Homo sapiens: one gene and its partners. The protein of the gene in region 6 purifies or fractionates together with the protein of the main gene of each other region. This does not show direct contact. Each region holds a gene or a part of one and is shown on either strand. Other genes may lie near its edges. The genes, in order: CROCC, GOLGA3, SCLT1, KLHL21, HOMER1, TPM1 and SPAG9.

What was found.
Region 1: the proteins of TPM1 (region 6) and CROCC purify together in Homo sapiens (affinity purification with mass spectrometry; 3 studies listed by BioGRID and IntAct, with this or other methods). This does not show direct contact.
Region 2: the proteins of TPM1 (region 6) and GOLGA3 purify together in Homo sapiens (affinity purification with mass spectrometry, with the first as the bait; one large-scale study listed by BioGRID). This does not show direct contact.
Region 3: the proteins of TPM1 (region 6) and SCLT1 purify together in Homo sapiens (affinity purification with mass spectrometry; 3 studies listed by BioGRID and IntAct, with this or other methods). This does not show direct contact.
Region 4: the proteins of TPM1 (region 6) and KLHL21 purify together in Homo sapiens (affinity purification with mass spectrometry; 3 studies listed by BioGRID and IntAct, with this or other methods). This does not show direct contact.
Region 5: the proteins of TPM1 (region 6) and HOMER1 purify together in Homo sapiens (affinity purification with mass spectrometry; 3 studies listed by BioGRID and IntAct, with this or other methods). This does not show direct contact.
Region 7: the proteins of TPM1 (region 6) and SPAG9 purify together in Homo sapiens (affinity purification with mass spectrometry; 2 studies listed by BioGRID and IntAct, with this or other methods). This does not show direct contact.

Annotation. Positions count from the first base shown.
Region 1 is NC_000001.11:16,970,198-16,974,431, reverse strand, and holds the end of CROCC (rootletin), read right to left. Parts: intron 4,180-4,234; coding exon 3,979-4,179; intron 3,797-3,978; coding exon 3,665-3,796; intron 2,968-3,664; coding exon 2,785-2,967; intron 2,073-2,784; coding exon 1,986-2,072; 3' UTR 1,468-1,985; downstream 1-1,467. UniProt on the Homo sapiens protein: Major structural component of the ciliary rootlet, a cytoskeletal-like structure in ciliated cells which originates from the basal body at the proximal end of a cilium and extends proximally toward the cell nucleus.
Region 2 is NC_000012.12:132,783,584-132,788,050, forward strand, and holds part of GOLGA3 (golgin subfamily A member 3), read right to left. Parts: intron 3,205-4,467; coding exon 3,110-3,204; intron 2,973-3,109; coding exon 2,756-2,972; intron 725-2,755; coding exon 581-724; coding exon of another isoform or gene 443-580; exon of another isoform or gene 285-442; intron 1-284. UniProt on the Homo sapiens protein: Golgi auto-antigen; probably involved in maintaining Golgi structure.
Region 3 is NC_000004.12:129,082,963-129,087,429, forward strand, and holds part of SCLT1 (sodium channel and clathrin linker 1), read right to left. Parts: intron 1-4,467. UniProt on the Homo sapiens protein: Adapter protein that links SCN10A to clathrin. Regulates SCN10A channel activity, possibly by promoting channel internalization.
Region 4 is NC_000001.11:6,595,403-6,599,869, forward strand, and holds part of KLHL21 (kelch-like protein 21), read right to left. Parts: intron 4,051-4,467; coding exon 3,645-4,050; intron 156-3,644; coding exon 83-155; intron 1-82. UniProt on the Homo sapiens protein: Substrate-specific adapter of a BCR (BTB-CUL3-RBX1) E3 ubiquitin-protein ligase complex required for efficient chromosome alignment and cytokinesis.
Region 5 is NC_000005.10:79,371,653-79,375,619, forward strand, and holds the end of HOMER1 (homer protein homolog 1), read right to left. Parts: 3' UTR 984-3,967; downstream 1-983. UniProt on the Homo sapiens protein: Postsynaptic density scaffolding protein. Binds and cross-links cytoplasmic regions of GRM1, GRM5, ITPR1, DNM3, RYR1, RYR2, SHANK1 and SHANK3.
Region 6 is NC_000015.10:63,059,747-63,064,179, reverse strand, and holds part of TPM1 (tropomyosin alpha-1 chain), read right to left. Parts: intron 3,312-4,433; coding exon 3,241-3,311; intron 2,983-3,240; coding exon of another isoform or gene 2,907-2,982; intron 2,468-2,906; coding exon 2,392-2,467; intron 1,966-2,391; coding exon 1,903-1,965; intron 1,605-1,902; coding exon 1,535-1,604; coding exon of another isoform or gene 1,371-1,534; exon of another isoform or gene 117-1,370; coding exon 38-116; coding exon of another isoform or gene 34-37; exon of another isoform or gene 1-33. UniProt on the Homo sapiens protein: Binds to actin filaments in muscle and non-muscle cells. Plays a central role, in association with the troponin complex, in the calcium dependent regulation of vertebrate striated muscle contraction.
Region 7 is NC_000017.11:51,110,640-51,115,106, forward strand, and holds part of SPAG9 (C-Jun-amino-terminal kinase-interacting protein 4), read right to left. Parts: intron 1-4,467. UniProt on the Homo sapiens protein: The JNK-interacting protein (JIP) group of scaffold proteins selectively mediates JNK signaling by aggregating specific components of the MAPK cascade to form a functional JNK signaling module.

The DNA of each region.
Region 1 (4,234 bases), on a different chromosome or scaffold from region 6:
AGGCTCCTGACCCCTTGGAGTGAACGATCTGCTCAGGTGCCCTGTGCTTCCGCAGTCCCAGCCCCACCGCCTTACCCGCCGGCTCCAGCTCTGCCCTGCCCAGAACGCTGCGTCATGACAGTGTACGCGCGCATGCGTGTTGTGGGAATTGCACGGGAGATGGAAGGCTTCAGGGACACAGCTTTCTGATGACCGGGGCTGCTTGGTGAGCACATTGAGTTCCCATCACCAGAGGAACACAGCAAAAATGGGAGGCCGCCCATGGGGTGGGGGGGGCACAGGGTCAAGGCAGGCGGACTGACATCCAAGGCCTTTGTTTGGGAAGTTGGGGAGATGGGTGCCATTAAGAGGGCAAAAAAAGCGGGGCACAGGGACTCACACCTATAATTCCAGCACTTAGGGAGGCTGAGGCGGGCGGATCACTTGAGGCCAGGAGTTCGAGACCAGCCTGGCCATGGCGAAATCCCGTCTCTAGTAAAAATACAAAAAAAAATTAGCCAGGCGTGGTGGCGTGTGCCTGTAATTCCAGCTACTCAGGAGGCCGAGGCACAAGAATTGCTTCAATCTGGGAGGCGGAGGTTGCAGTGAGCCGAGATCGCGCCACTGCACTCCAGCCTGGGCGACAGAGCAAGACTGTGTCTCAAAAAAAAAAGGGCAAAAACAAGCAAGCCATTGTAACACCTCCCTCCAACCAGCATGTGGGGCCTGGGCTCTGTGTGTGAAGGCTCACACACTCCTGTTTAGCCGTCCGAACAGGCATATGTGGTGGATGCAATTCATATCCCCTTCTTAGAGACAGGAAAACTGAGCCCAGAGACGTTAAGTAACCCACCCAAGGGTCCCACCCACGGGTCCACAGCTATCAGTGGCAGTGCTGTGGCTGAATCGGTCAGCTGGACTCCAGCAGGTGAGGATGAGTGTTAATTTCTCCTTCGGACACTGATTGAGCACCTCCTATGTGAACTTCCCCAGAGCCACCCTATGCGGTTAGGTTCCCATTTTACAGATGAGCAAACTGAGGCTCTAAGAGGTTAAGCAGCTTTGCTCAGGATCACTCAGCGGTGCCAGGGCAAGACCCCACGTTCACATCCAAACCTGCACTTGTTTGCCATGCTGCCTGGAAGGCCTGTCACTGTCCCGAGGGTGGGCTTGGATCTAAGGAGGGGCCAGAGAAAGGGGCAAGAAAGCATAGGCTGGAAGGAGTCGAGGTGCACAGGCTGGGCCCAGTCCCAGGCCTCAACAGCCCCATCTGTTCCATGGGCCGGGTGACCGAGTACCCCAGAGGCCTCCCCATCTGACATTCTGTGAGGCTGGTAAGTTCCCTTCCCAATACCGGCCTCTCTGCTCTCCCTGCCGCCTCCCCAAGCACCCCTCCCTAGAGGGCCCCATCCCTCTTGCCCCAGACCCTACCTGTCTCCCCCCGACGTCTCCTCCAATTGTCTAGAAAAGGGACACAGCTGTACAAACTTTTTTAAAAACAAGGTTTTGTTACAAAAAACAGTTCTGAACAGTTAACATTGTAAAAAGGTATAAAAATACAGGGACTCTGAGCACTCTGAGGAATTTCCCGACACATGCTCTTAACTAAGGCGGAGAGATCTCTGGGAAGCCGAAGTCAGGGCCTGGGCCTCTGACCCCTGCCCTGGGCCTGGTCCCCCTCCTCTTTCCCACGATCCCATGCTCCAGGGCTGACCAGAGACAAGGGCTCTCCCCAATCCTGGCTACGGCTCAGCCTCTCAAGGAGGAACTTTAATGATCTACAGTGGCTCATCCTAGAAGAGGGGGGCTGGACTGCAGGTGTTGCTGGGAAGCCTCTCCAGGCCTGGAGCTGGAGTACCCGTCCTCAGCACTGCCAGCAGAGCGCCTCCTCATCCCACCCCAGCTTGAGGCCCCCAAGGGACCGGGCTCTGGGTGGGGGGGCTGTCCAAAAGAAGGGTCCTCCCCTGTCCCAGGCACAGGGGTGTTCTCCAGATGCCAGCAGGAGCTCATTTCTCTGGGGGGCCGGAGGGTGGGGAGAAGGGTGCTGAGCTCCTTCGAAGCTCCTGCTGCAGCTGGCCCTTCAGTGTGGACACCTGGGGAAGAAAGGGAAGGTAAGGCCAGCCAGGTCCTCAGCCTGGCTTCAGAGAAAGGGAGGCAGCAGGGAACCCGGAGGGACACAGTGCCACAGTTTCAGGAAAGGTCTGGTCTCACTGAGAGCCAGGGGCTGTCCTGCCTTTCTCATTTTGTTCCTTATAGCAGAGTCAGGCGTCTTCTGACTGTTGGGCACCTTTGAGGGCAACTCCACCCCCATTCTTTATCCCCATCATCACTTGGGTGGGCGTGGCTTCAGCCCAGACCCAAGGGGTGGACATGTGACCCAGCCCGGCCTAGCAGAGAAGCCTTGCCCGGCCGACAAGGCTGGCTCAGGCATGGTCAGGAAGGGGTATGTGATCTGAGCGGGCCAGTGAGGGACAGCCTTAGGACTTCTGCCCCTGCTCTCTTCTGAGATGACAGATTGCTGGGAGAACCTGAGGCTGGAGCTGCTGAGGCCACCTGGCCACCCAGGGAGAAGGCTACCCTGAGCATGGAGCCAGGGGGAACAGAGCCATGGCAGGAGGCCTGGGGCCCAGGAGCATCCCGTGGCCCCGGTCTGGTCTTGGCTGACACCAGCGCAGAGCCAACCCCACCCTTTTCGGTTACGGGAGCCATCGACTGCCTATACCCACAAGGTCTTGATTGGGTCTCTCCTCTTTCTGCAGCCCCACACATCCATCCTGGCCCAGCCTTCTAAGGGGGCCTGCACACCTGCTCCTCCAGCCCACGCACCCTCTGGCGGTGGGCCCGCTCCCGAGCCTCCAGGGTGCGCTCAGTCTGCGCCTGGGCGCTGCGCAGCCGCTCCACCTCCTGCTGCAGCTCCAGCTGCTGCTGCTGCGCATCCACCTCCAGCTGGGCCGGGCTGTGGCTCTGCTCCAGCACCACCACCTGCGCCTGCAGGGAGGGGCTGTGGTCCGCGTTCTGGCCCAGTGTGAGTGTGTGTGTGCATGTGTGACGGGTTGTCAGGTACCTCCCTGGGACACGGCCAGTGCAGAGGGGGAAGGCAGGAGAGATCCTTGTGTGTCTTCCATCCTGCTGGCCCTGACAGTGAGCCTGCGAGCCCAGGATGAGTGCACCCAATGACCCCCACTCAGGCAGGTGCATGGACACACACACACACACACACACACACACACACACACACACACTCAGACATCATACACACAGGCACAAAGGCAAGCATGTAAATACCTATCTGGACTCACACAGGTGCATGTGTATGTGCAAAGGCCCAACTCCCCCATGCATGAAAACATCTGTACACAAACACATATTCATAATACCTAGACACGCCACACCATGCACAAGATTCATGCTCCATACACAAGAATCGTCACATGGATTCTCACACTGCTGCATGGCCACAACGTACATGAACCCACAGGCTCACGTGCAAACAGGCCTTTCGTGTCTTTTCTGTACACCTTAGGGAGAACCCATCCCTCCATGGCCCGCTGGGTCACTGGAAGGCTCAGGGCTCCTGGGGGAGGGGGTTATGGGCCCTGGGCTGGCTGGGCCATCAGCTCCACTGGAATTGCTGAGCACTCATACTAGGGATGAAGTTGGGGTCCCGGACTGGGTGGGGTCAGACCTCCAGCTGCTGGATCTGCCTCTGCGCCTCTGCCAGCTCCAGCTCAGCCCCCGTGAGGGTGCGGTCCAGGCGGCCCTTCTCTGCGCTCAGCCGCACTGTGTCCTCATGGCTACGAAGCTTCTCCCGCTCCACCTAGGCAGGAGAGCCACAGGAGATCAGGGTGCCAGGAGGAGCTTACTGAGGGGGCTCAGGTTCCTGAACCCTGATGGAATAACCTAACCCCACCAGAGGTAGCAGACCCTGGGGATGTGCAGTGGGATCCACCACGGTTAGGCCCCAGAGGAAGTGAGGGGAGAGCCTGGGGAGCAGCCTACCTTGTCCAGCGTCCTCCTGAGGGCTACACGGTCCTTCTCCAGCCGCAGGGCTGAGCGCTCCACCTCCCGCTTCTCAGCTTCCAGCTGAGCCAGGGCGCGCTGCAGGCTTCCCAGGCGCTCCTGCAGCAGCCGCCGCTCGTCTTGCAGCTTCTGGACGGTGTTCAGGGCTGCAGCCTCACCCTCCTGCCGCTGCCGCAGCACCTGCAACAGAAGCCAGGCAGGCCCCGAATCCCTCTGGGCCTGAGCATACTTATCT
Region 2 (4,467 bases), on a different chromosome or scaffold from region 6:
TTTTTCTTTTTTTGAGACGGAGTCTCACTCTGTCGCCCAGCCTGGAGTGCAGTGGCGCGATCTTGGCTCACTGCAACCTCCGCTCCTGGGTTCAAGCGGTTTACCTGCCTCAGCCACCCAAGTAACTGGGACTACAGGCACCCGCCACCACACCCGGCTAATTTTTGTATTTTTAGTAGAGATGGGGTTTCACCATGTCGGCCAGGCTGGTCTCGAGCTCCTAACCTCATGATCCGCCCACCTCAGCCTCCCAAAGTGCTGGGATTACAGGCATGAGCCACTCGCCTGGCGAAGTTGGGTTTCTTATTTGCAACCAAAGCATTTGAACTGAGAAGGGTTCCACTATGAATTCTGTAACCATTCCACCAAAGAGGCTGTACAGTGATCCTCCCCAGAGGGCTGGAATCAGGGCCTGCCCCACCACAGAGCCAGAGGCCGACGGTCAGAAGGTGGCAACACCAAAAGTAGCAACGCTGGGCACACGGTGAAGTTTTGTTCTTCGGGTCTCACGCGTGGCGGCATGTCCAGGGCTCACGTGACCTGCCCCACGCTGCCGCCACAGCAGATGGCCAGGCCTCACCTCGTCCTCCAGCTCCAGCACCTTCTCCCGGGACTCCTCCAGCTCCTGGCTGGTCAGCGCTATGACCTCCTGCAGTTCCTTTTCCAGCAGCGTCTTGCTATGACTGACAGCCTGCAGCTCCGCCTCCAGGGCCTGGATCCTTTCCTAAGGGCCAAGATGGAACGGGCGCTTGGTCATGGGACAGGCCCTGACCCCCCTCACTTCCTGTGGTGCCGGCAGGCATGAGGCTGTGTGGCTGCACACACCAGACACCAGCTGTCTGACACAGTCTCACAACCTTCCTTTTTGTTAAAGAAGTTGAATTAACCGACCACAGCATGCACACGATGACACACGGGGATAGTTGGGACAAACAAAATCATCTCTTCAGTTCAATGCTTCAAAAATACAGAAGAAAATCTGACCTGCAGATAATGGCTATAAATCACCATCTGTGGCAAGCAAGCAGCACCAGTTGTAATAAATACCACACACATGCTCACGCACCACACATCACATACACACACTCATGTAACACACACCACGTGCACATGTTCACATCCCACACACCACACACACACGTGCTCACACCCCACACGCACATGCTCACACCCCACGTGTTCACACCCCACACCACACATGCACATGTGCTCACACCTCACACTGCATGCACACATACACCCCACACTGCATGCACACATATGCTCACATCCCACACACCATGCACACAAACACTCCACACGCTGCACACACACATGCTCACACCTCACACATGCACGGATACATGCAGGCACAGGTGTGCTCTCACACCCCGCCCACTTGCTGCCTCGATGGTACCAGGCCCTTGCCAAGCATGTTCCAGTACCACCTAACTTAACCCTTACATGAGAAGGTTCTCATTCACCTCAATTTGGCCTCATTTTGCTGAGGATCAAAAAGGTGAGAAATTTGCCAAAAGTCACCACTTGCGAGGGGTGAAGCCCGGACGGACACAAGACATCGGCTCGCAGCTGTGCTATTCCTCAGCTGCAACAGCGTGGCGAGGGGCCAGCTCTGCCCGGCCTTTGCGACCTCCCCACCCCAGCCCTTAGTGAGCCCAAAGAAAATGGCAACTGAATCAATCTCCCCAACATTTTACAAAGCAACCAGGTGAGAGGAAGCACTTGATTTATTTATTGAATTTCAGACACAGAGTCTCTATCGCCCGGGCTGGAGTGCAGCAGCAAAATCATGACTCACTGCAGTTTCAGCCTCACCTCCCAGGCTGAGGCGATCCTCCCACCTCAGTGTCTCAAGCATCTGTGTCCACAGGCACGTGCTACCATGCCTGGGTTTTATTTTTGTATTATTTGTAAATACAGGGTCTAATTATGTTGCCCAGGCTGGTCTCAAACTCCTGTGCTCAAGCGATCCTCCTGCCTCAGCCTCCCAAAGCGCTGGGATTATAGGTGTGAGCCACCGTGCCCGGCCGAGTTTATTTGACAAGAAAACCCCACGTTATGATACAGTCTCTTCCTACCCATAAATTCTTAAGTGGACAGGAGATAGAAACAAACCACATATAAGAAGAAATACTAAGTTGTCAGTGCAAGGACGTGAATTGGAGAATAATAAATAAAATGCGGATGAACTCACTCAGGTAGAATGTTATGCCTACCACGAAAGGTGACAGAGCACGGAGGGCCACGGCCTCCACGGAAGGCTCTGCTCAGAGCCCTCCAGAAAGGGCACCCGCTTGTTCTGGGCCACCGCAGCATGGCTACCTCTAAACGCTCCCTGAACCCTGTCAATCGCTGACCCCATGCCCTCACTCCTGCTTCTCAGTGAGTGCGGAGGCTGCTTTTCCTCCTGAGATGCGAGGAGGCGCAGAGGCAGCTGGAACGCGAGCGGACCAGGGCAGGCCCTCCCTCTGCCCCAAGGGAGCAGCTGAACTTCTCTGAGCCAAGGAGATTTCTTGAGGAAAATCAGGTGAACGCCACAGGCCACAGGCCATGTGGGGTTCATGAGGGAGACGCGAGGCAATGCTCAGTCACTGTGGGTTCCTGGTAACCTGGAAGATGAGCGGGAGTTTAGAGAGTTGCCACCTCCCACGCGAGCTCGGCCCCGCTAGGCTTTAGGGGACAACTGCTGATGGAGAGCCCTTCCCTGCACTGAGGGGCTGGTGACCCTGGCCGGGGATGGCACGGTGTTACCTACATGTAGAGCCAGGCTGCTGTCACTGCTGCCACCCTGGGCTCGGAGCTGGCCCAGCTCCGCGTCCGCAGCCTCCTTGGCCGCGAGGGCCTCCTGCAGGCGGCGGCTGAGGATGCCCACGGCGTTCTCGTAGGCCTTATGTTTGGTCTTCATCTCCTTCTGGGCGCTGGTCAAGTCTGAGCCCAGCCGCCTCATCTTCTGCTTCTGTTCCGTGATGGCCCTGGGGTGTCATGAGGGAGACACAGGAGGAAGCTGAATTATCCCGATGTGACCGTCTGGCATTCTGGTTCGCCTCCCCCCCGGCCCCCGCACCTCCCACCTGGCCCCCGCACCTCCCCCGGGCACATGCAGACTTACTTCCGGGCCTCTTGCTGCAACTCTTCGATTTGTTTCTTCAGCGCCTCATTGGCCTCTGTGACCGCGACCATCTGCTCCTTATCGAACTGCAACGACTGTGGAAGGGAAGGAGGGCGTGAGGAGCGGCACTGCCACCCCCAGCCTGTCTCCCCTTCCTGGCTCCAGCCCATCACCCCCACCAAAGGCACTGCTCAGGCTCGCCCTGGAGGACTTGGGCCTTGAGAAAAATCCTGAGAGAGACGTCTGCCTTCTTACAAACCACTCTTTTTTTTTTTTATTGAGATGGAGTCTCACTCTGTCACCCAGGCTGGAGTGCAGGGGCGTGATCTCAGCTCACTGCAACCTCCGCCTCCCAGGTTCAAGTGATTCTCCTGCCTCAGCCTCCCGAGTGGCTGGGACTACAGGTGCCCGCCACCATGCCCAGCTAATTTTTGTATTTTTAGTAGAGACAGGGTTTCACCATATTGGTCAGGCTAGTCTTGAACTCCTGACCTCGTGATCCACCTGCCTCGGCCTCCCAAAGTGCTGGGATTACAGGTGTGAGCCACTGCACCCGGCCACAAACCACTCATTACTGAGACCAACAAGCGTTTCCAAACACTGTCCAGAGCATCAGAGGCACAACAGGACATGACTGGTTCATAGGAAAGCCTGTGGACCCAGGACCTCTCCTCCAAACCCTCAGGACCCAGGACCCCTCCCCAGGGCCCCAGGAACCCTCCCCAAGGCCTAGGACCCCTCCTCAAGGATCCAGACCCCTCCTAGGAAACCCCAGGACCCCTCCCCAAGAGCCCCCGGGAACCCTCCCCACAAGCCCCTGGATCCCCTCCCCACAGTCCCCAGACCCCTCCCCCAGAGCCCCCAGGACCCTTCCTGAGACCCCGGGACCCCTCCCCAGAACCCCTGGGACCCTTCCCCGGAGACCCCGGGACCCCTCCCCGGAGACCACGGGACCCCTCCCCGGAGACCCCGGGACCCCTCCCCGGAGACCCCGGGACCCCTCCCCGGAGACCCCGGGACCCCTCCCCGGAGACCCCGGGACCCCTCCCCGGAGACCCCGGGACCCCTCCCCGGAGACCACGGGACCCCTCCCCGGAGACCACGGGACCCCTCCCCGGAGACCCCGGGACCCCTCCCCGGAGACCCCGGGACCCCTCCCCGGAGACCCCGGGACCCCTTCCCGAGACCCCAGGACCCTTCCTGAGACCCCAGGACCCTTCCCTGGACCCCCCCCGGATGCCCTCCTCAGGATCAACTGTGAACACTGAGGGCCGCGTCCCCGACCTGCTCCTGCCCTCGCAGCCTTTCCCCAGCTCCTGTGTGCGAGGCGAGTCCCCACAACCAGCCCAGGCCTGCAG
Region 3 (4,467 bases), on a different chromosome or scaffold from region 6:
AGATGGATCACTTGAGGTCGGGAGTTCGAGACCACCCTGGCCAACATGGTGAAACCCCATCTCTACTAAAACTACAAAATTAGCCAAGAGTAGTGGCATGCGCCTGTAATCCCAGCTATTTGAGAGGCTGAGGCAGGAGAATAACTTGTACCCGGGAGGCAGAAGTTGCAGTGAGCCAAGATCGCACCACTGCACCCCAGCCTGGGTGACAGAGTGAGACTCTGAAAAAAAAAAAAAAAAAGAATAAGAAGAAAAGAAAAAGAAAAAAAAGAAATAACAAGACCATACTTTTATTTACATCAAGAAAAGTAACATACATACAACATAGTACCCAACAAATTTGCAATCACACGTTCTTTTCAAGATCACACAGAACATTTAATGTTGATTATTCACTGGTAAAAGAAAGTCTCAATAATGTTCAAAGGACTGAAACCAAAGACAGTATGTTATCTTACAATAGCACTATTAAGTTAGTATCAAGAACCAAAAAAAAAAAAAAAAAAGGAAAATCCTCTATATGTTTGGAAGTTCAGAAATCACTTTTGGCCAGGCATGGTAGCTCATGCCTATAATCTCACTGCTTTGGGAGGCCAAAGTAGGAGAATCACTGGAGCCTAGGAGTTTGAGGCTACTTTGAGGCTACAGTGAGCTATGATTGCACTACGCTCCAGCCTGGGCAACAGAGCAAGACTCTATCTCAGAAAAAAAAAAGAAGAAAGATCTCAGGAGGAATTACAAAATAAATTTTAAAGTATTTTGAAGTGAACAATAGTGAAAATGTGATACCTCCAAACTTGCTTAAAGAGAAATCTGTAGCTTTAATTGCATATACTAGAGAAAAAGTCTGAAGTTACAAATGCATTCCAAGAAGTTAGAAAAACAGCACCAAATTAAATCCAAAGAAAGCCAAGTGGAGTAAATAAAGATAAGCCCAGAAAATAAAGAAATTGAAAATAAACTCACAAAAAATGATAAGAAATATGATCATCTCAAAAGTTATTTTAAAAAAGCACCTGATGAAATTCAAGATATATTCATGATAAAGCCTTATCAAAGTAAGACTAGAAGGGAACACTGTTATTATAATGAATGCTTACGTAAAATACACAACAAACATCATACTCATGAGTAAAAATGTTGAAAACTTTCCCTTGAATTAGGAATCACATAAGGATAAATTCTTATGACATTTACTCAACACTCTATTGGAGGTCTAAGTTAATGCAGTAAAGCAAGTAAAAGACCTAAAAGACACAAAGGCTGGAAAAGATGAAACAACTGTCATTATTCATAGTTATGAGTGCATATGTGATTAATCCAAAAAAACCACAGATACATACTTAAAAATCAATCATGAAGATTAACAAAGTTGTTGGATACAAGGTCAATATATAAAAATTAATTATATTTCTAGATACTGGCAGCATAAAGTTAGAAAACAGTAAAAGATGCTATTTATAGTACCATAAAAAAAAATAAATGCCCAGTAATAAATACAACAGAAGATGTTTAAGACCTCTACACAGAAAACTATGAAACGTTTCTCTGGAAAAAACTTTAAAATTCATATGAAACCAAAAAAGAGACTGAATAGCCAAAGCAATCCTAAGCAAAAAGAACACACCTGGAGGCATCATGTTTCCTAACTTAGAACTACACTACAGGGCCACAGTAACCAAAACAGCATGGTACTGGTGCAAAAAACAGACACATAGGCCAATGGAACATAATAGTGAACCCAGAATTAAGGCCACATACCTACAACTATCTGATCTTCAACAAACCTGACAAAAACAAGCAATGAGGAAAGAATTCCCTACTTTAAATGGTGCTCGGATAACCGGCAAGCCATATGAAAAAAGACTGAAACTGGACTCCTTGCTTACACAATATATAAATAATAACTCAAGACGAATTAAAGACTTAAATGTAAAACCCCAAACTATAAAAACCCCGGAAGACAACCTAAGCAACACCATCTGGACACAGGAGTAGGCAAAGGTTTCATGACAAAAATGCCAAAAGCAATTGCAACAAAAGCAAAAATTACAAATGGAAACTAATTAAAATAAGGAGCTTTGGCACAGCAAAGGAAACTATCCACAGAGTGAACAGACATGCTGCAAAGTGGGAGAAAATTTCTGCAAACTGTGTATCTGACAAAGGTCTAATAGTCAGCATCTATAAGGAACTTGAACAAATTTACAAGAAAAAAATCCCATTAAAAAGTGGGCAAAGCTCATGAACAGACACCTTTTAAAAGAAGACATATATGCGGTCAGCAAGCATACAAAAAAAAGCTCAACATCACTGATCATTAGAGAAATGTAAATCAAAACCACAGTGAGATACTACCTCACACCAGTTAGAATGGCTATTATTAAAAAGTCAAAAAATAACAGATGCTGGTGAAGTTGTGGAGAAAAAGGAACATTTATACATTTTGGTGGGAATGTAAATTAGTTCAACCATTGTGGAAGACAGTGTGGCGATTCCTCAAACACCTAAAGACAGAAATACCATTCGACCCTTTAATCCCATTACTGAGTATACACCCAAAGGAATATAAATCATTCTACCACAAAGACACATGAGCATGTATGTCCATTGCAACACTATCCACAAGAGTAAAGACATGAAATCAACCTTAATGCCTATCAATGGTGGTCTGGCTAAAGAAAATGTGGTACATGTATACCATGGAATACTATGCAGCCATAAAGAAGAACGAGATCATCTCCTTTGCAGGAACATGGATGGAGCTGGAGACCATTATCCTTAGCAAACTAATGCAGGAACAGAAAACCAAGTACGGCATGTTCTCAATTATAAGTGGGAGGTAAATGATGAGAACACATGGAGGGGACCAACACACACGGTGGCCTATTGGAGGGTGAAGGGTGGGAGGAGGGAGAGGATCAGGACAAGCAACTAATGGGTATTAGGCTTAATACCTGGGTGACAAAATAATCTGCACAACAAATGCCCATGACACAAGTTTACCTATATAACAAACCTGCACATGTACCCCTGAACTTAAAAGATAAATTTTAAAAAAAGAAAAACTTAAAACAAAAAATTAATCACAATACAAACCTCTTTTTTTTTCCCTGACAGAGTTTTCAATTAAGAAAAAAACTAGATCTGTGTCCTCAGTAATTAAAATAGGATAAGAAGTAAATTATGTATTAATAATGAGGGAAACACTTTCAATCTTCATAGATTGACTATAATCTGGAGAAAATTTTACTGTAACTTAAATGTTATTATTTCCTTCATTCTACAAGTACTTATCTGGCTTGTTTAATTTGCGTTTCCTGGATACCTGAAGATGCTGGTGTATGTATGTATATATATATATATATATATATACACACACACATTCATTGTTAGTTTCAATTTACTAATATTTTATTTTGGATTTTAGTTCCAACATGCATAAGTGAAACAGGTTTACAGTTTTCCTTTCTTGCAAGTATGCTTTTTGTGTAGCAGTTAAGAAAAGAGACACTGAAACTAGACTGCCTGGGTTCAAATCCCAGCTCAGTCACTTACTAGCTCTGTTAACCTTGACTTTGTGAAGGCACTTATCCAGAGGGTTCAGCTATCTATAGGTACTAAACAGCATTTGGTATGAGAACTGTAAAGGCAAACCAACCAATCATGGCATGAGGTGTTACTGGGCATCAGCTATAGAAAAGCAGGGGTATAATCATATTAAGATTACTGACAAGCGCAGAAGGACTAATGGGCAATGGTTACAGCCTGTAAAAGACACCAGTAAAAACAAACTGGGAAGCAGTCAAGGTGGTAAAGAAAATGAAGGGCTCAAAGGATGAGGAGGTCAAAGAACAGTTATAGTAGGAGTAAGATACTTGAGTTTAAGACATCAAAAAGTAGGGCAACTTGAATAGGACTTCTGCTTATACTCAAGAAGAAATAACATGGACCACTTTTCTGCCTGACACACATGAAAAAGCAAGCAAAAAAATCATCAATACCTTATAGTACACTAGACATCAGACAATGATAATCAGAGACAAGAAACAAATGAGGTAAGCCCTATGATTGCCCCACCTTAATGACTTAAGAGACTTTCCAGGGCCATGACACGGGGGGAGGAAATGCAAGTGGAGACCACTGGACTCTTATTAAGAGGTGGAGCTGAGAAGTAGTGGAGATTAAGTGAACTAGAATTGGCAGGACAAAGGATAGAAGACTGCACAGAGAAAGAACCCTAGGGAATGTGAGACCTGCAGAGGTTCTTCTCGAGTACAATACAGAGTACTGAATAGCTCTTTATTTATTAAAGAAATTAAGTTTGTATTTTAAAACCTTTCCACAAAGAAAACTTCAGGTCCAGTTGGCTTCACTGGTGAATTCTATCAAATATTCAAGGAAGAAATAATATCATTTTATACATACTCTTACAGAAAGTTGAAGAGTACAAAATATTTTCCAAGT
Region 4 (4,467 bases), on a different chromosome or scaffold from region 6:
CCAAACACTCATCACGATGACACTTGGGTTGCAAAATCAGGACCAGCCTGTGCTTCCAATGCTGGCCCGCCTGAAAATTTACCTGATTCATGGACGGGATCTTGTCCCATTCGTTCCTCGTCGGGTTGTACACGTCCACCTCAGCGGAGTCATCCCTGTGGAGGGGGCAGCAGGAGGACAACTGCTCAGAGCGAGGAGGAAGTGCACACATGCAGGGCTGGAGCAGAGTCCTCCCCTGGGTCACTGACTCCTCCAGTGACCTGGATCTTTCTGATGCCATCCAGCAGCACCCTTGCCAGGTAGGCTCCATCCCCAGCTCTTAGGAGCCAATTTCAGCCCCCTGTGCCCACTCAGCCAGGGCTCCAGGGCCAGAACTCTCACTCCCAAACCTGAAGATCAGGCTTTTGAGTACTTGAAGCCCATTCAGTGCCTCCCCATCACCCAGTACCAAGGTGGCTGTCCCCCACCCCCCAAGCCTACAGTAGCTCCCTTGAGATCTTAAAGAAGCCTCCTTGCTCCACTGTGCATCCCCACAGGCCCTGGAACACTCCTTGCCACTGTCCCCAATATCACTATGAGCCCCCAACCCTGTCCTGTTCACTACTATGTTGAAGTACCCCTCACTTTGGGGTCAAGACCCTTCAACTTCATCTGACACCCTTTATATCCCCACAGTAAAAGGCTCAAAGGCACAGCCTTGAAAAGCAAAGATGCAGGCCAGGCACTGTGGCTCACGCCTGTAATGCAGCACTTTGGGAGGCCGAGGCTGGTGGAGTGCCTGAGGTCAGGAGTTCGAGACCAGTCTGGCCAACACGATGAAACCCCGTCTCTAGTGAAAATACAAAAATTAGCCAGGTGTGGTGGCATGTGCCTGTAATACCAGCTGCTCAGGAGGCTGAGGTAGGAAAATCGCTTGAACCCGGGTGGCTGAGGCAGGAGAATCTCTTGAACCCGGGAGGCGGAGATTACAGTGAGCCAAGAGCGTGCTATTGCACTCCAGCCTGGGAGGCATAGTGAGTGAGACTTCGTCTCAAAAACAAAAAAAAGAAACAAAGATACTACAAGACAAACAACAGTAGTTGTGAACCTGACACGGCAGCACAAAACCAGCCACAGACAATGCATAGACACGAGCCTGGCTGTGTGCCAAGAAAACTATCCATGGACAGACATTTACATCTCGTCTAACTTGAAATGTTATTCCTGATTTTTTGCCCCCAATCATTTCAAAATGTCAAAGTCACCCTCAGTTTGTGGGCCCTGTGGTGGTGGTGATGATGATGATGATTACACCCTGGAACCTGCTAGGCTGCCCTGTCTTTCCCCAGCAGAGACTTGCAAACCACAGCCCAGAGGCTGGACAGAGCTCGCCGGCATTCCCAGAGGGGGCTACTGCACCCCAGCCAAGGAGGCATTTTGTACCAGAACCAAGGGGAGGGAGGCCCAGGTCATTTGTGGGTCACATGGACAACGGCTGAGGCTGTGGCCTCCCTGAGAATGGCACGTCCTAGGCACAAGCTGCCCAAAGACAGGTGGTGTTCTGGGCAGAGGGTTATGTGGCTCTTGAAGAGCCAAAGTGCGCAGACAAAGTGACACCGGGACAAATAGCCCAGGGGGACCAGCCCCAAGCAGGGCCCCTGCATGCTTAGCCTTCTCTTTAGGGCTCAAGCAGCTTCCACTCAGGCTGAGCCTGGGCGCCCCTCCTCTGTGCTCCGGCACAGGTCACACTGGTAAGATGAACGCATGCAGCCTTTCCAGAGCACTGCCTCCTCCCACACGTGCAAGTGGCTTAGGAAACCCCTGGAAAGGTCAGCAGTGGGTGGGGGTGGCGGGGCAGACCCTCATGCTTCCCTATGGGAAGGTTAACCCAGCAGGCAGACCTCCCTGGCGCACATCTTCACATCTTGCTCTAGGACAGATGGGGGAGGGGAGGAGGACTCTCAAAGACACTGGGCCTGGAACCACTGCCTAGGGGCCGAAAGGAAGGTTCTGGCCCTCTGATAAGTTGTATTTATAGCCATCTCCACCCCCTCTTTGAAGACACCTTCACAACTTGGGGGAGGGAGAGCCGGGCAAAGGGTCAGATGATGTTTTATAATGGGACCAGAGCTGGCTGAGATTCCAGGGCTTTCTCAGAGCAAGACCATTGGTTCTGGGCATGTGGTGGTGCCCAGCTACTTGCGTGACAAGCAACGCCACCCCTGTTCTTCTTGGTGCTCACTCCAAAAGCCTGGTAAGGAGCCTCCTGTCTGGGGGGATGGTGGGGCAGATGCCAAGGCCAGGGCAGCTCTGGCAGTGCGAGGCAGGGGGCCAAGGAGCAGGGAGCTCACATCCCCCAAGCTCCCCATTCAAAGCCCCAGCACGAAAGGGCACAGTGGGGACTGTCATTCAGTTCTTCCCCTTCCCTCCTGGACCCAGAGCTTCAGGCAGGCTCTAGGCTGGGAGGGAGCAGCAGGATTATGTGAACAAGCAGCGGAGTACAGCAGGGAGGGGCTGCCCCGTGCCATCATTGATGCCCAGAAACCAGCCGGAGGCAGCATTTGGCTGTGACCAGACAGGTCATCAAGGCCAGCAGACATATGATGACCCGCAGGCTGCCTGTCTCTGCTCCGTGCTGCTCAGCCTACAGCCTACTCTTGCTGGAAGAGCTCAACTCCACCACCTGTGAAATCGCTTAAGAAAGCCTGGGGTTTTCCTTAAACCCAAAGGAATGGAACAAGCACTGTGGGCTCCGAAAGACCAGGCCTGGCTGGGTGTGGGGGCTCACACCTACAATCCCAGCACTCTGGGAGGCAGGAAATGTGAGACGATTGTTTGAAGCTAGGAATTTGAGACCAGCCGGGGCAATACAGCGAGACCCTGTCTCTACAAAAAGTTAAAAAATGAGCCAGGTGTGGTGGCTTGTGCCTATAATCCCAGCACTTTGGGAGGCTGAGGCAGCTGGATCACATGAGGTCAGGAGTTCTAGACCAGCCTGACCAACATGGAGAAACCCTGTCTCTACTAAAAATATAAAAATCAGCCAGGCATGGTGGCACATGCCTGTAATCCCAGCTACTTGGCAGGCTGAGGCAGGAGAATGGCTTGAACTTGGGAGGCAGAGGTTGCAGTGAGCCAAGATCGCGCCACTGTACTCCAGCTTGGGCAACAAAAGCGAAACTCTTCTTTTAAAAAAACAAAACAAAACAAAAAAAAACAGACCGGGTGCAGTGGCTCACGCCCGTAATCCCAGCACTTTGGGAGGCCAAGGCGGACCGATCATGAGGTCAGGAGATCAAGACCATCCTGGCTAACACGGTGAAACCCCGTCTCTACAAAAAATACAAAAAAATTAGCCAGGCATGGTGGTGGGCGCCTGTAGTCCCAGCTACTCTGGAGGCTGAGGCAGGAGAATGGCGTGAACCCGGAAGGTGGAGCTTGCAGTGAGCTGAGATTGCGCCACAGCACTCCAGCCTGGGCGACAGAGCGAGACTCCGTCTCAAAAACAAAACAAAACAAAAACAAAGAGACAGACCCAGCCTCCAACCCCAGCTAGGCCTCAGTTTCTCATCTGTGGAAAAGGGAGAACAGCCATGATGTGTGCTTAAGACAGGGCCTGGTAAGAGACACCAAACACACAGTGGGGCTCGGCACCTGGAACTCACCTGACAAAGTACATGAGTCCGTTTAGAGTCGCAGTCTTGGGGGCGAAGGACCAGGGCGGGAGCTGGCCGCAGTCCACCAGCGACCACAGGTCGGTGTCCGGGTCGTAGCACTGCATCACCATGGTCTCCTTGCCAGCCAGGGAGCCGATGGCATAGAGCCGGCCACGGCACGCAGTGGTGGAGCAGTTGTCCATGGGGTAGGTCATGGGCTGCAGGGCCTCCCAGGAGTCAGTGGTGTGGTCATAGCGCTCGGTGCTGTCGGCGGCCACCACGTACAGCAGTCCGTCCAGCACAGAGGAGCTGTGGTACTCGCGGGCCTTCAGCATGGGCGCCACCTCCGCCCACTCATTCACGCTTGAGTTGTACCTCCACACGCAGTCATAGAGCCGGGAGCCATCGGACCCACCTGCCAGGACGCATGACAGGCAGAAGATCAGCCCACTCAGGTGAGTCACCCACCTGCACCCTCCCGAACTTCCGCAAGGGCCTCTGCCTTGGGAGGAATTAACATCACTGGGCTTCACCCCAGACGCACACCCTCTCCCCAAAAGCCCAGGCCACATGTTGTGGCTAAGGCAAAGCACACGCTGACCACTGTCCAGCGAGATGACTGCTGCCAAGCCTCTACCAAACAAAGGTCCTGAGTGCAATGCTGGAAGAATCCAGCAGCCTCCTCTGGACACCGCCCCCCAGCCATACATACACCTCAGCAGACCAGAGCCCTGGGCCTTGGGACAGTTCTCCTGGGGAGCCACAGAGCTTGTCAGCAGGGCACACAGGGACTTGCTCACTAACTCCTAGGCTTCCTGGGCACCCTCCAAGC
Region 5 (3,967 bases), on a different chromosome or scaffold from region 6:
GGTCAGAATCCCACAAAATGGTGAGTTCTGAATGTCAGGTGTCTTATATTGGGTTACAAATCCTGACAAGACAAGTGACAGGGTTTTCTGAAAGTCTCTGAAACTCAGTGCCATCTCGATCTGTTTGGTTAAAAGCAGCAGCAAGGTAGGAAATAGTTGGTCTGTGTCTCTGGCTATCCTGATATGCCTTAGATAAAAACTGAAGGCAGCATGTTCCTGCTCTTTTTTCTGCATCTGCTTTCACAAAAAATATCCTCTTCCCACCCAGATATAATCTGGGTGGCTTCTGGAATATGTCCTTTAACCTACACCTGATCTTAGCCAAAAGGCCGAGAAGCAGTGTGTCCTTTAACCTAAAAGAGAGGTCCTTACAGAGATCAGAGACTTGACAAGAAGTCGACTAGGAGTTTGTGGCCTTCTGTCTATTCTAGTCCTGATGCAATTTCTCCCTAGTTCAAGTTTTTGGTAAAAATCACTTAAAATTTTTTTTTTTTTCTATTTAGTGTACTAAGCAGAAACCACCAGGCAGTGTAGTGCTGACTGAGTTTTTGAGTTTTCTGGGATATGATTTTTAGCTATTTTACTATGTAATATATAAACAAAAAATGCTAAGTACCCACTACTTTAATTCAGTAACTTTGCTTGTATTTGCGTGACATCTATATATCAGTTTCTCATGAAGAAAAACTATCATAAAAATTTTAAGGTAAAATTTAACACGAATATTAGGAAAAAACACACTTTCGCAATTTGGAGTAAGGTGAATGACACATCCTTTCCTTTTCTAGTAATTTCTAAATTTAGAAATTGAGAAATTTTCTAACAGTGTCAATCTCAACTACTTCTTACCTGAAAGGTTTCTTAAGATTTTGTATAAATTAATTTACTTCATGCTATACATTTAGGAGGCAAAAATTCAATGAAAATCATTTCATGACTTCAAGCACAGAATTTCAGGATGTCAAAATCATTTGATATCAAATAAATGCAATGGTTAAAACAACAATAAGAATCCACTGCCATCAAACAAACTTTCCCCGACCTGCCTCCCATTCCAGTACTGACAAAATCAGGACCACAAGGAGATAAATGACCGAAGTGTATATGCTTCAGTTAAATAAAAACATGGGAGACTGTAGCCCACATGTTAAAGAATACATTTAATTTTAACAGGGCAAATAAACTAGTTTTTAAAGGTAGTGGTGGTGTTGGCTTAATTTTGAGTGTTCCTTTTATTTCCACCTGAAAAAAAAAGTGAGCTTTTCCTCTAACTGCTTCCCAACAGTTCAATGACAGCAGAACATCAAATCTATGATGGTGCTGGAGATCTTCTATAGAGACAAGGAGAGATGCAACTTCGTGAGCATGTTTTAGTCTGCAGAAAGAAAGTGGAAAAGAGAAAGAGAGAGAGAGGAGAACAAAAACTAATTTTCCAGGCAGGGGAATACTTATAAAACCTTTTATGTCAAAGTTAGGATTTCACAACATAACACACTAATGCAAAATCCAGTAGCACCTGAAAGATTTAAGTAAATGCTGTCATCATTTAAATGCTTTTAAATATCTGTAAAAGACTGGAGGAAAAAAAGATAAAGTACATTCTCCAGAGAACAAATGTATTTCAAAATAAAAACTGTATTTTTGCTTTTCTTTTTTTTTTTCAATTTTTGTTTTTGTACAAGATTCAATAGTTATCACATATTAACTTATACACAATGGGATCAACCTCCTCCTCCATGTCGCTTCAAGTCCACATGTTCAGGCTATAGTCCCCAACATTATTTTCTGAGAAATATATTACCACAGTTTGATTTAAATATAGATACAGTATATAATACTTGTCTCTGGGAAAAATCAAATTTTAATATGCAAATGTTTATATAATACAGAAATGGAAAAAACTACAGTAGGCACACAACCTAATTATGACTTGTGGATGATGATTTCTACATACTCTCCTACTGTAAATGAATAGTTAAAAGTCTTAAGAAGATTTTATTTATATGTGCACTTGTGTCCACCTTATCCCATATACTGTACATGTCTATTGACAATCTGGGAATTTAAAGGTGCAGCCCTCAAGAGATTGTTAAATCACTAAAAAAGGAAACAATTAGGCTCTATTGGACAAGAAAAACACTCACAAAATTTCCAATTTTAAATTTCATTATCAGTAGGAAAGTATTAAAAATAATTTTCTGTATATACATATGGGTATATGTATATATTGAATCACACATATGTCCCACATTATCAATACAATTCAAATGGAGACATTTTGGTGAGTTTTTTCATTAAATGATCACTATGTCAAAATTTAAAAATATTTTATTACATCATTAAAATAATTCACTTGCCATTTCAACAGCTTACACTGTTTTTTAAATTTTTTTAACTCTTCATACTAAACTCCCTGATCCCTAGTGTTAAATCTCCTATTTAAATTAAAACTTGGTGCTCTTTGTTACTCAGAAACTGATGGATAAAAACACATTTACTTCAAAATTCCATCAATCAAATACATTTTGTTACCTGATTTATCAGAGAAATATCTCAGCTCTGAGCATGTGTATCTAAATTATTCTCCCTATAATATATAGGTGAGGAAAATATCCTAAAATAGATGGAGGTAACGTACATGATGTTACAGCACATATAATACATGATTGTTATAAATTTTTCAGAGACACCTGAAAACTCACTTAAGAAACTAACTTCAGAAACAAACCATTTATTTTTCACTCTAATGTAAATTAATATGTATGTATTTACGTACATACACATACATAAAAAACAAAATTGTCTAGTATTGAGTAGCTGTTTATGAGTGAAAAAATGGTTACAAATTGGTTAATTAGCTTAATTTTGTACTTAACAATTCGATCATTTTGGGGTACAAACAAGAAGTCAGTGCATTTATAGACTCCATAGAGTCAGTTACTCAAGCATACACTTTAAAAAAGAACCCTCCTCAACATCACAGGCATTGTACAGCAAGAATATATGTACTCTGATGCAATTCCTACTTTATAAGCAGACTAGACAGCACTTGGCTTACTTTTAAAATAGCTTCGTAAAAGAAATATATCATATAAAGAAATGCATGTTTGCTAAAAGTCTTTTAAAATTACATCAAAACAACATTAAAACCTGTTCACTGAGAAGAGCCTATTGAATTTAATTCCTGTTTTGAAATACCTAGTTAACAATTCAGAATATTGCCTTGTGAGGTTTGAATCAAGATGTGATTGATGTGTAGAGCCAGATAGAGTACATGACTCCATCTCTATCTGCCACGATCACAATTTAGATAGAGTCCTCTGATCAGCTGTTTGATGTAAATGGACCCCCTTTAAAATAGCTATACACCTTAAAATTATCTATAATAAACAGTTCCCCAATAACCATTATTATTCGTAAATTGAAATGCATTGATCATTCAGAAAAGATTTCTTGCAAAATATATAAATAAATGTAACTGCATATTCTGTAAATATACTTAACATTGCTAGACCAGCCTGTCAATGACGGGCTGCTGTATTTCAGTACTGTGTGTCAAATTTATTAGAAACTTAAAAAGAAAAATTTCTGAGGGACTCAGCTGCCTTCGTTAGTTGGCTTTAAAATGTGTAATAAAATGGGAGACAATATCTTCTCATAAATACATGGAATCAATATGGAAAAGTAAACTATACAACAGACAAGATTAGAGAACACCAGAGTGTACCAGAGTAGTCACCAGAGTGAAATATCTTCCAGCACAAAAAAGGGAAGAACTCTATACACCCAGTTATAGTATATTTCAATTAAAGATACAGCTCTCTCTCACTCCTGGCAAGAATTAATTGGTAATGGCACTGCTTCTCAGCAGTGCAAAAATATCCTGAGAAATTATTCAGATTACAACAAAAGACAGGCTTTCATCACTAAGTTTTTGCACAAAACACAGCTCTAGATATCGTAAATA
Region 6 (4,433 bases):
GGCAGGGTGTAAGCAGGCAGAGTGGATGAACGTTTACATGGAAGTCATATCGTTGAGAGCGTGGTCCAGCTCCTCGCTGATGGCTTTGTACTTCAGTTTCTGAGCGTACAGCTCGTCTATGACCAGGAAGTGGAAGGCAGAGGTGCAAGAACATGGAGAGTGATCAAGAAATGGAGGGTGAGTGAGGGTGGTGCGCGCACCATCCCAACACAGCAGCAAGAAAAGGGCAATGCATGAAGGGGTTGGTGCCGCAGCAGGTGGCCAATGCAGGAGGCGTGCGTTTTGTTTTAAGTAAATTGAAACAAAAACAAAGAGAACAAAACCCATTAGAAAATAAAATGAAAAAGACTCAATATGAAAATCCTAACAAATATGGTAGGTATATCAGTAAACCATGTTAAATTGTAAACGAAACCACAGAAGGCTGTCTCCTGGTGAGGGGAGGCAGGGGCTAATGGAACATCTTTCTTTTGCAGAGCTATATTTTAATTACACTGGAGTAGTCAGGCATCTGCAGCTATAAACAATGGGAAAAAAATGCAAGGGCAGTGTTTTGGAAGAACAATTTGTGACTACAGCCTGTAGTCCTTATCTGGTTCCACCTTCAAACCACTGACTTCCTGACCACACTAGACCACTGGGATAGCGATTTCTTAGTGCCATTTAAGCTACTCCTGTGGTCTTCCCACTCAAGCTGCCTATTACTGGTCCAGGAGGCTTGAAAAGCAATGGGCGCCACACTTTATATGGCAAGTCTGCAACTTAGTTTTTGTAATGCTGCAGGTTTCATACTTTGCTGCACTTTGGCAGATCATTTTGCAACCATTTGTCATTCTCTCTTCTCCACTATTTTGGTTATTATCTGCACCAAACACTAGTTCCTTCTCTAATCCCTTCTGTGATGTAGATATTTGTCTTTTTTCTTTCTTGTTCACAGCTAATCCTTCACAAGCTTCAAAGCTCAACATTTAGGATATCTGTGAGATAGAGTGGTTATTACTAAAATAAAACCTAAGTGCCTTAGGGAAGAAATGCTTAAGTATAATTTTTCCCTCCTCCTTCAGGATATAAAGTATTTTGTTAAGATAATATATGACTTAAAATAACCCCTAAATCCTTACTTTGAATTCATACTTGGAAGAAGATGGGTTCTTCTAAAAACAAGACCACAATCACCACATCATTCCCAATTTAATTAGGAAGTAACACTAAAGATATAAAATATACTAGAGTCATTCTCACCAATAAGCACCTCACTCACAGTGAAAAATAAACCTGCCACACTTGTAATGAGCATGAAGTCAAGCTGGATGGCATTTGCCACTATGGCTGGTGGCTAACTAGTCACCTCGTGAGCAGAAGACTTAGGTTCATGAGTTCAAGAGCCACAGAGAAAAACCCCAGAGGACACACAGGAAGAATGTGCAAGTGCAAAGGAGCGTATCAATGTGGATGCCCTTGAATTGGAAAATTGTTTTGCCAGGTTGGTATTCAACCATAAGGATTAAACTAAAAACACTACTTAAGATCTTACCTTCTAAGTCATCAATGCTTTTCTCCAATTTAGTTACTGACCTCTCCGCAAACTCAGCCCGAGTCTCAGCCTGTAATGATTTATTTGAGTTAAAGTTGGGAAGTTTTATGTTTCCTGTAGCTACAAACATAGGGAAAACTAGAGGATGAAAATGAAGCACATCACCTATAAAATGGATCAGAAACTACTTGTCAGTTTCAGTCACCTCTGTGAGAAATGGCAGTTAGCACAGTACATAAACTCCAAGGCGACCTTTGAATATTCCTGACTTGGATCATTGGAACTTTAAAATGAAAAGGCCCTGACCGGTTCCATGAAAACAAACTCATTTAAAATCCAGTTGGCTTCATCCACAACTCTCATATTACCTCCTTCAGCTTGTCGGAAAGGACCTTGATCTCTTCCTCATATCTGTCTTCCTTCTGCGAGTACTGTAATTAGAAAGAGCATTCCAGATGTCAGGCTGCAGCTCAATCTACTCATGGCTTCTCATGCAAAGAACTCGCCAGCTCAGCCAACAGATGTTAAGGATCTCTTAGGAGGTAATGGAACCTCTGATATCAAATGGCACACTGCAATACATTCTCTGCTTTCTTGCCTATTGTTTTACATGGGATAACAACAAGATAACTTATCCACTTGGCACTTGGTTTAAATTAAATTGATGCCTCATATCCCTAACATAAAATAAATTCTCTAGTTAAAAAAAAGAATTTGTTATCTAGTAACTCTCCAAAAATCACCTCACAATATTGCCATTTTACTAAAATGTCTACTGTAAGTGTTGCTTTCTGGCAGGGCCTCTTTTGAGCAGCTCTTAAAAGATGCCTTTCCCCCACACCATCCTCCTGGCCTACCTTCTCAGCCTGAGCCTCCAGTGACTTCAAGTTGTTCGTCACAGTTTTCAATTCTTCTTCAAGCTCGGCACATTTGCTAATGTTTTCGATCAGAGGCAGAAAGGGTGGGAGACAAGCCAAAGGAAGGAGGAGAGAAAAAGGAGAGGGATGGGAAAAAATGAAAACTGAGTCCTAGAGACGAAGGGCTGCCTTAAAGTAGCCAAATCATCAGGTATTAAAATGTTTAGGTTTTCCAGGAACACTGCCCCCCAACCTCGCAACAGCAGAAGGCAGGGTGACCAAATCCAACAACTTTGAAGTGCGATAATTTGGCTCCTTTTTTGGCTGCCCAAAGAGCATTTATGAAGGGAAAACAAAGGAGCATAAAGGACCAAGGGAAAGCACTTAAGGCAAGATATAAATAGCAGAGGGTGAAGTGAAGGTGCAGTCGTTATACCAAACGAACCAGGAGGCATTGGAAGCTGAAAGATGTCTGGGTTGCAGTTAAACCTAAAAACCACACGAGCCATCAGTACCTTATCCTCTGCAGCCATTAATGCTTTCAAGGTCTGATCCATTATTCTTAATTGTTCTTCCAGCTGTCGGACTTGGCTGTTAGTGGACACAGGAAATGCACAAGGCCATTCACAAAATCAGTGTGCAGGTAAGGCATGCAGTGATACACGCATTCATACATAAGACACCCCACACGAGTCCTCCATGTTCCATACTCGTGGCTCATCCACATCAAATGAGCACAAAAGGAGCCCGGAGCTGAAACAGGTAATGTGCAGCTGCCAGAAGGTCATGCTGTTTAGTCACTGCTCTGCAGCACCCCATTCGTGGCCTCCTGGCGCCGGGCCCGCTTACCCTTCTGAGAGCTCAGCCCGCTCCTCTGCACGTTCCAGGTCGCTCTCAATGATGACCAGCTTACGGGCCACCTGCAGCAGGAAGACACAACACACACACCATGGGTCTTGCAAGCTTTGTGTAACAGAAGGGCATGGGGGTAGAGATCAGATCCCATCAGGCCCTAAGGGTTTTGTCTACAAACAATATGATCCTCTTTCTGGTAGACCAGAGAGAAGCAACTCTCTATTAGGAGTGCCAGCAGAGAGGAGATCAGAGGCTTCTGCTTTGACTCAGAATGGTTAGCTGTGATTGGGCAGTCTCAATTGGAAGTCTGACCTAGGTGAACCGGCAGCCAGACCAAAATGTGGAAGGAGGGATAAAATACACATTCACAATCTCAAAAACAGCAGTAGGATGAGACATGTACTAAAAAGGTGGGGGCTGCCAGGAAAACAAAGTAAACCTAAGAACTCCATCAATTTGATGGCTGATCTGTGCATCTACCTCCTTACTGCAGTGGAAGAATACAAGAGACACTAACGTGAGACAAGTTGGTGAGATAACTGACAAAATCAAATTTGTATTTAGTGGAAGAACCAGAGAGAGGAAGGGAGCCTCTGAAGCAGATCAAAACTTGTGAGCATAGTGTAATCTGAAGGTAATAATGGTAATAAAAAGGAGGGGCAATGCTGTTTCAGGATAGCCACGATGTGATCCAATAAGGAAAAAACAGAAACCTTAATAATCAAGTTGCCTCTTATCACAGGAGGCTGTTTTCATGGGGACACGACCAGGAGCAAATTCTGCTGAAAACCTGCGTTGATAATAGTTTTCTACCACCCTTGAGGAGAGAGGCCTCTGTGAATCCACTGAGAAACTGTCTGTGGTCTCTAAGCTGCCCAATCTGGATGTGCCAGGTCACTCTGGGAAGAAATGACTTGCACCATGACAGCATGAGAGCCTCCTTTCACAAGACACAGGGCCCAACTCTCCCTTCCGGCCAAAGATCTTTTGTCCGGGTCTTTGTGGCTGGGGGAGAGGAGTTTTGGTCCTTCTTCGCAGTGCTACTGATTGGCTTCCTGATAAAGCCTGGGATCCCCTAGCAGGATTAAAATTAGAACCGTTTTCTGGACACAAAGGAACTCTGCTTCTCAAAACCACCCATTTCTGCCAACAAAGCAGATGGCCTCACTCGGGAATCAAGACTGTAC
Region 7 (4,467 bases), on a different chromosome or scaffold from region 6:
GATCGCACCACTGCACTCCAACCTGGGCCAGACCTTGTCTCGAAAAAAATAACATAAAATAAAATTCTATACCCTCAACTTGGTACTTCTCTATTACATTAATATATAAATTCCCATGGTTCACCTCACACATTTTTGGGTGTGCCTATTATGCCAAACTACTGAATGCTGTAATTCTTAAGAAAATAAAACACAGTATGGCCGGGTGGGTGGCTCATGCCTGTAATCCCACCACTTTGGGAGGCCGAGGCGGGCAGATCACGAGGTCAGATTGAGACCATCCTGGCTAACGCAGTGAAACCCCATCTCTACTAAAAATACAAAAAATTAGCCGGGTGTGGTGGCGGGCGCCTGTAGTCCCAGCTACACGGGAGGCTGAGGCAGGAGAATCGCTTGAATCCAGGAGGCGGAGGTTGCAGTGAGCCGAGATCCCGCCACTGCACTCCAGCCAGGGTGACAGAGCAAGACTCCGTCTCAAAAAAAAAAAGAAAAGAAAACACAGTGCTATGTTCAAAGCAATAATCAAATATCACTGGTCAAGATTTCAAAGTAAAAAACAGAACTTATATATACCCATTTCCAAATAACAGCTTTTTAAATATATATAACATTACATACATTATTAAACTGGTCTATGCAGATATTTCTGACCACAACCTAATAACTTATTTAGATAACAGCTGTATTCATTGAGTGCAGAGCAGAGCAAAATAACTTGGGTAGGTTCTAACATCAGTTCTCCTGAGAAGCAAAGTTCAGTACAACATAAGTAAGCAGCATGTAGTTAAAGGTAAGGTAAAGATTTCAAGAAGCAGGAATCCTGTACTCTCTCAAGCACAGAACTGGATGTGTGACCTATGGCACACACTTCAGCAATCCAGTGAATAGTCAATCTACTAATCTACCCTCTGAACCAGTTTGGTACTATACCCAGTTTGGTGTCCTCTTTTGTGATTTTTTTTTGTTTTGTTTTTTCTTTTGAAGACACAGTCTCACTCTGTAGCTCAGGCTGGAGTTCAATGGCAAGATATTGGCTCACTACAACCTCCGCCTCCCAGGTACAAGTGATTTTCCTTCCTCTGCCTCCGGAGTAGCTTGGATTACAGGCGTCCGCCACCATGCCCAGTTAATTTTTGTATTTTTAGTAGAGACGGGGTTTCACCATGTTGGTCAGGGCTGGTCTTGAACTCCTGACCTCAGGCAATCCACCACCTCGGCCTCCCAAAGTGCTGAAATTACAGGCATGAGCCACCATGCGTAGCGTTCTTTTGTGATTTTTAACTAAATAAAAATATGAGTGTCACTACAGCAGGGACACATAATGGTATCTCATTTAGATATTCACATTCAGAAATCTCAAATTTAAAAAAAGATGTCTTAATCCAGAGCTAGTCTTTGTCTTTAAAAAAAAATGTCTTAGGAGCTTAAGTAATAATTAACTAACAAATTATTATTTCATAAAGCAACAACCATACCCCTTCCCATCCCACTCCCGCCAGAAAACAAACATAGATTGTTCATTTCAGAAAGTGTCTGAATGACTAGGTGCAGGGGCATATCTCTATCTACTCTGGCTAGGGGCAGTGTGAACATTATTCGAATCGTTAACCATGGCCAGGTGTGGTGGCTCACACCTACAATCCCAACACTTTGGGAGGCTGAGGTAAGAAAATGTCTTGAGGCCAGGAGTTCAAGACAAGCCTGGGCAACACAGTGTGACCCCATCTCTACAAAAAAAAAAAAAAAAAAAAGGCCAGGCGCAGTGGCTCACACCTGTAATCCTAGCACTTTGGGAGGCTGGGGCAGGCAGATGACTTGAGGTCGAGATCAAGACCATCCTGGCCAACATGGTGAAACCCCATCTCCACTAAAAATACAAAAATTAGCTGGGTGTGATGGCGCGCGCCTGTAGTCCCAGCTACTCAGGAGGCTGAAGCAAGAGAATCGCTTGAACCCAGGTGGTGGAGGTTGCAGCAAGCCAAGACACTCCACTGCACTCCAGACTGGCGACAGAGCCAGACTCTGTCTCAACAAAAAAAAAAAAAAAAAAAAAAAAAAAACTTTGGCAGGATCCACAAGGCAGGAGGATCCACTTGAGCCCAGGAGTTCCAGACCAGACTGGGCAACATAGTGAGTTCAGCTTGCATAACATAACGAGACCCTGTTTCTACAAAAAAAATTAAAAATTAGCCAGGCATGGTGGCGCATGCCTGTAGTCACAGCTGCTCAGAGGCTGAGGAAGTGGGATCTACTTGAGCCCTGGAGGTCAAGGCTGCTGTGGGCCATGATTGCACAACTGCACTCCAGCCTGAACCTCATCTCTAAAAAAAAGAAAAAAAAAAAAACCCAACCAAAGGAAAAAAAAATCACAAAAACAAACAGTTCAGAAAAAAAAAATGGTATTTTTAAAAATATGAAAAAATGTTGGCCGCTGCCGGGCGTGGTGGCTCACACCCATAATCCCAGCACTTTGGGAGGCCGAGGCCGGCGGATCACCTGAGGTTGGGAGTTCGAGACCAGCCTGACCAACATGGAGAAACCCCATCTTTACTACAAATACAAAATTAGCTGGCCATGGTGGCACATGCCTGTAATCCCAGCTACTCAGGAGGCTGAGGCAGGAGAATCCTTTGTATCTGGGAGGCGGAGGTTGCAGTGAGCTGAGATCGCACCATTGCGCTCCAGCCTGGGCAACAAGTGTGAAATGCCATATCAAAAAAAAAAAAAAAAAAGAAAGAAAAGAAAAAGCAAATAGGTTGGCCGGGCACAGTGTCTCACACCTGTAATCCCAGCACTTTGGGAGGCCAAGGCAGGTGGATCACCTGAGGTTAGGAGTTCAATACCAGCCTGGACAACATGGTAAAACCCCATCTCTATTAAAAATACAAAAGTTAGCGAGGTGTGGTTGTGAGCACCTGTAGTCCCAGCTACTCAGGAGGATGAGGCAGGAGAACTGCTTGAACCCGGGAGGCAGAGGTTGCAGTGAGCCAAGATCGCGCTACTGCACTCCAGCATGGGTGGCAAAGCAAGACCCCATCTCAAAAAAAAAAAAAACAACAACAACAAAAGAAAATAGGTTGGGTGCAGTGGCTCACACCTGTAATCACAGCACTTTGGGAGGCTGAGGTGCGAGGAATGTCTGAGCCCAAATATTCAAGATCAGCCTGGGCAACATGGGAAACCCATTTCTACAAAAAATACAAAAATTAGCCAGGCATGGCGGCATGATCCTGTAGTCCCAGCTATTCCGGAAGTTGAGATGGGAGGATCGCTTGAACCCAGGAGGCAGAGGTTGCAGTCAGCCGGGATTACACCACTGCACTCTGGCCTGGGCAACAGAGTGAGATCTCGTCTCAATCAATCAATCAAAAGATCTATAAAAATATTAAAATATGTGTTTTTTAGGCCAGGTGCGGTGGCTCACGCTTGTAATCCCAGCACTTTGGGAGGCCGAGGCAGGGGGATCACCTGAGGTCAAGAGTTTGAGACCAGCCTGGACAACATGGTGAAACCCCTTCTCTATTAAAACTACAAAAATTAGCCGGGCGTGCTGGCGCGTGCCTGTAATCCCAAACTACTAGGGAGGCTGAGGCAGGAGAATTGCTTGAACCTGGAAGGTGGGAGTTACAGTGATCTGAGATCGCACCACTGCACTCCAGCCTGGGCGACAGCACAAGACTCTGTCTCAAAAATAAATTTTTTAAAAAATGGGCCAGGCATGGTGGCTCATGCCTGTAATCCCAACACTTTGGCAGGCCAAGGTAGGCAGATAACAAGGTCAGGAGTTCAAGACCAGCCTGGCTAACATGGTGAAACCCCATCTCTACTAAAAATACAAAAAGTAGCTGGGCATGGTGGCTCATGCCTATAATCCCAGCTACTCAGAAGGCTGAGACAGAAGAACTGCTTGAATCCAGAAGGCAGAGGTTGCAGTAAGCCAAGATCGTGCCTCTGCACCCCAGCCTGGGCAACAGAGCGTGAAACTCAGTCTCAAAAATAAATAAAATTAAAAAATAAAATATCAAGTGTGGGCCAAGTGTGGTGGCTCACGCCTGTAATCCCAGCACTTTGGGAGGTTGAGGCAGATGAATCACTTGAGGTCAGGAGTTTTACACCACCCTGGCCAACATGGTGAAACCCTGTCTCTACTGAAAATACAAAAATTAGCCGGGTGTAGTGGTGCACACCTGTAATCCCAGCTACTCAGGCAGCTGAGGCAGGAGAATTGCTTGAACCTGGGAGGCAGAGGTTGCAATGAGCTGGGATAGTGCCACTGCACTCCAGCCTGGGTGACAGAGTGAGACTCTGTCTCAAAAAAAAAAAAAATTATGAATGAATGAGAACACTAAAACAAGAACAATGAATGTCAATACCTATTTTCCTGCCCATGAGTCTTACGGGTCCCATGTTCATACACTTCCAAAGACAAGAAGTGTCAAAAGTCTCCATTTAAACAAAAATCATTTT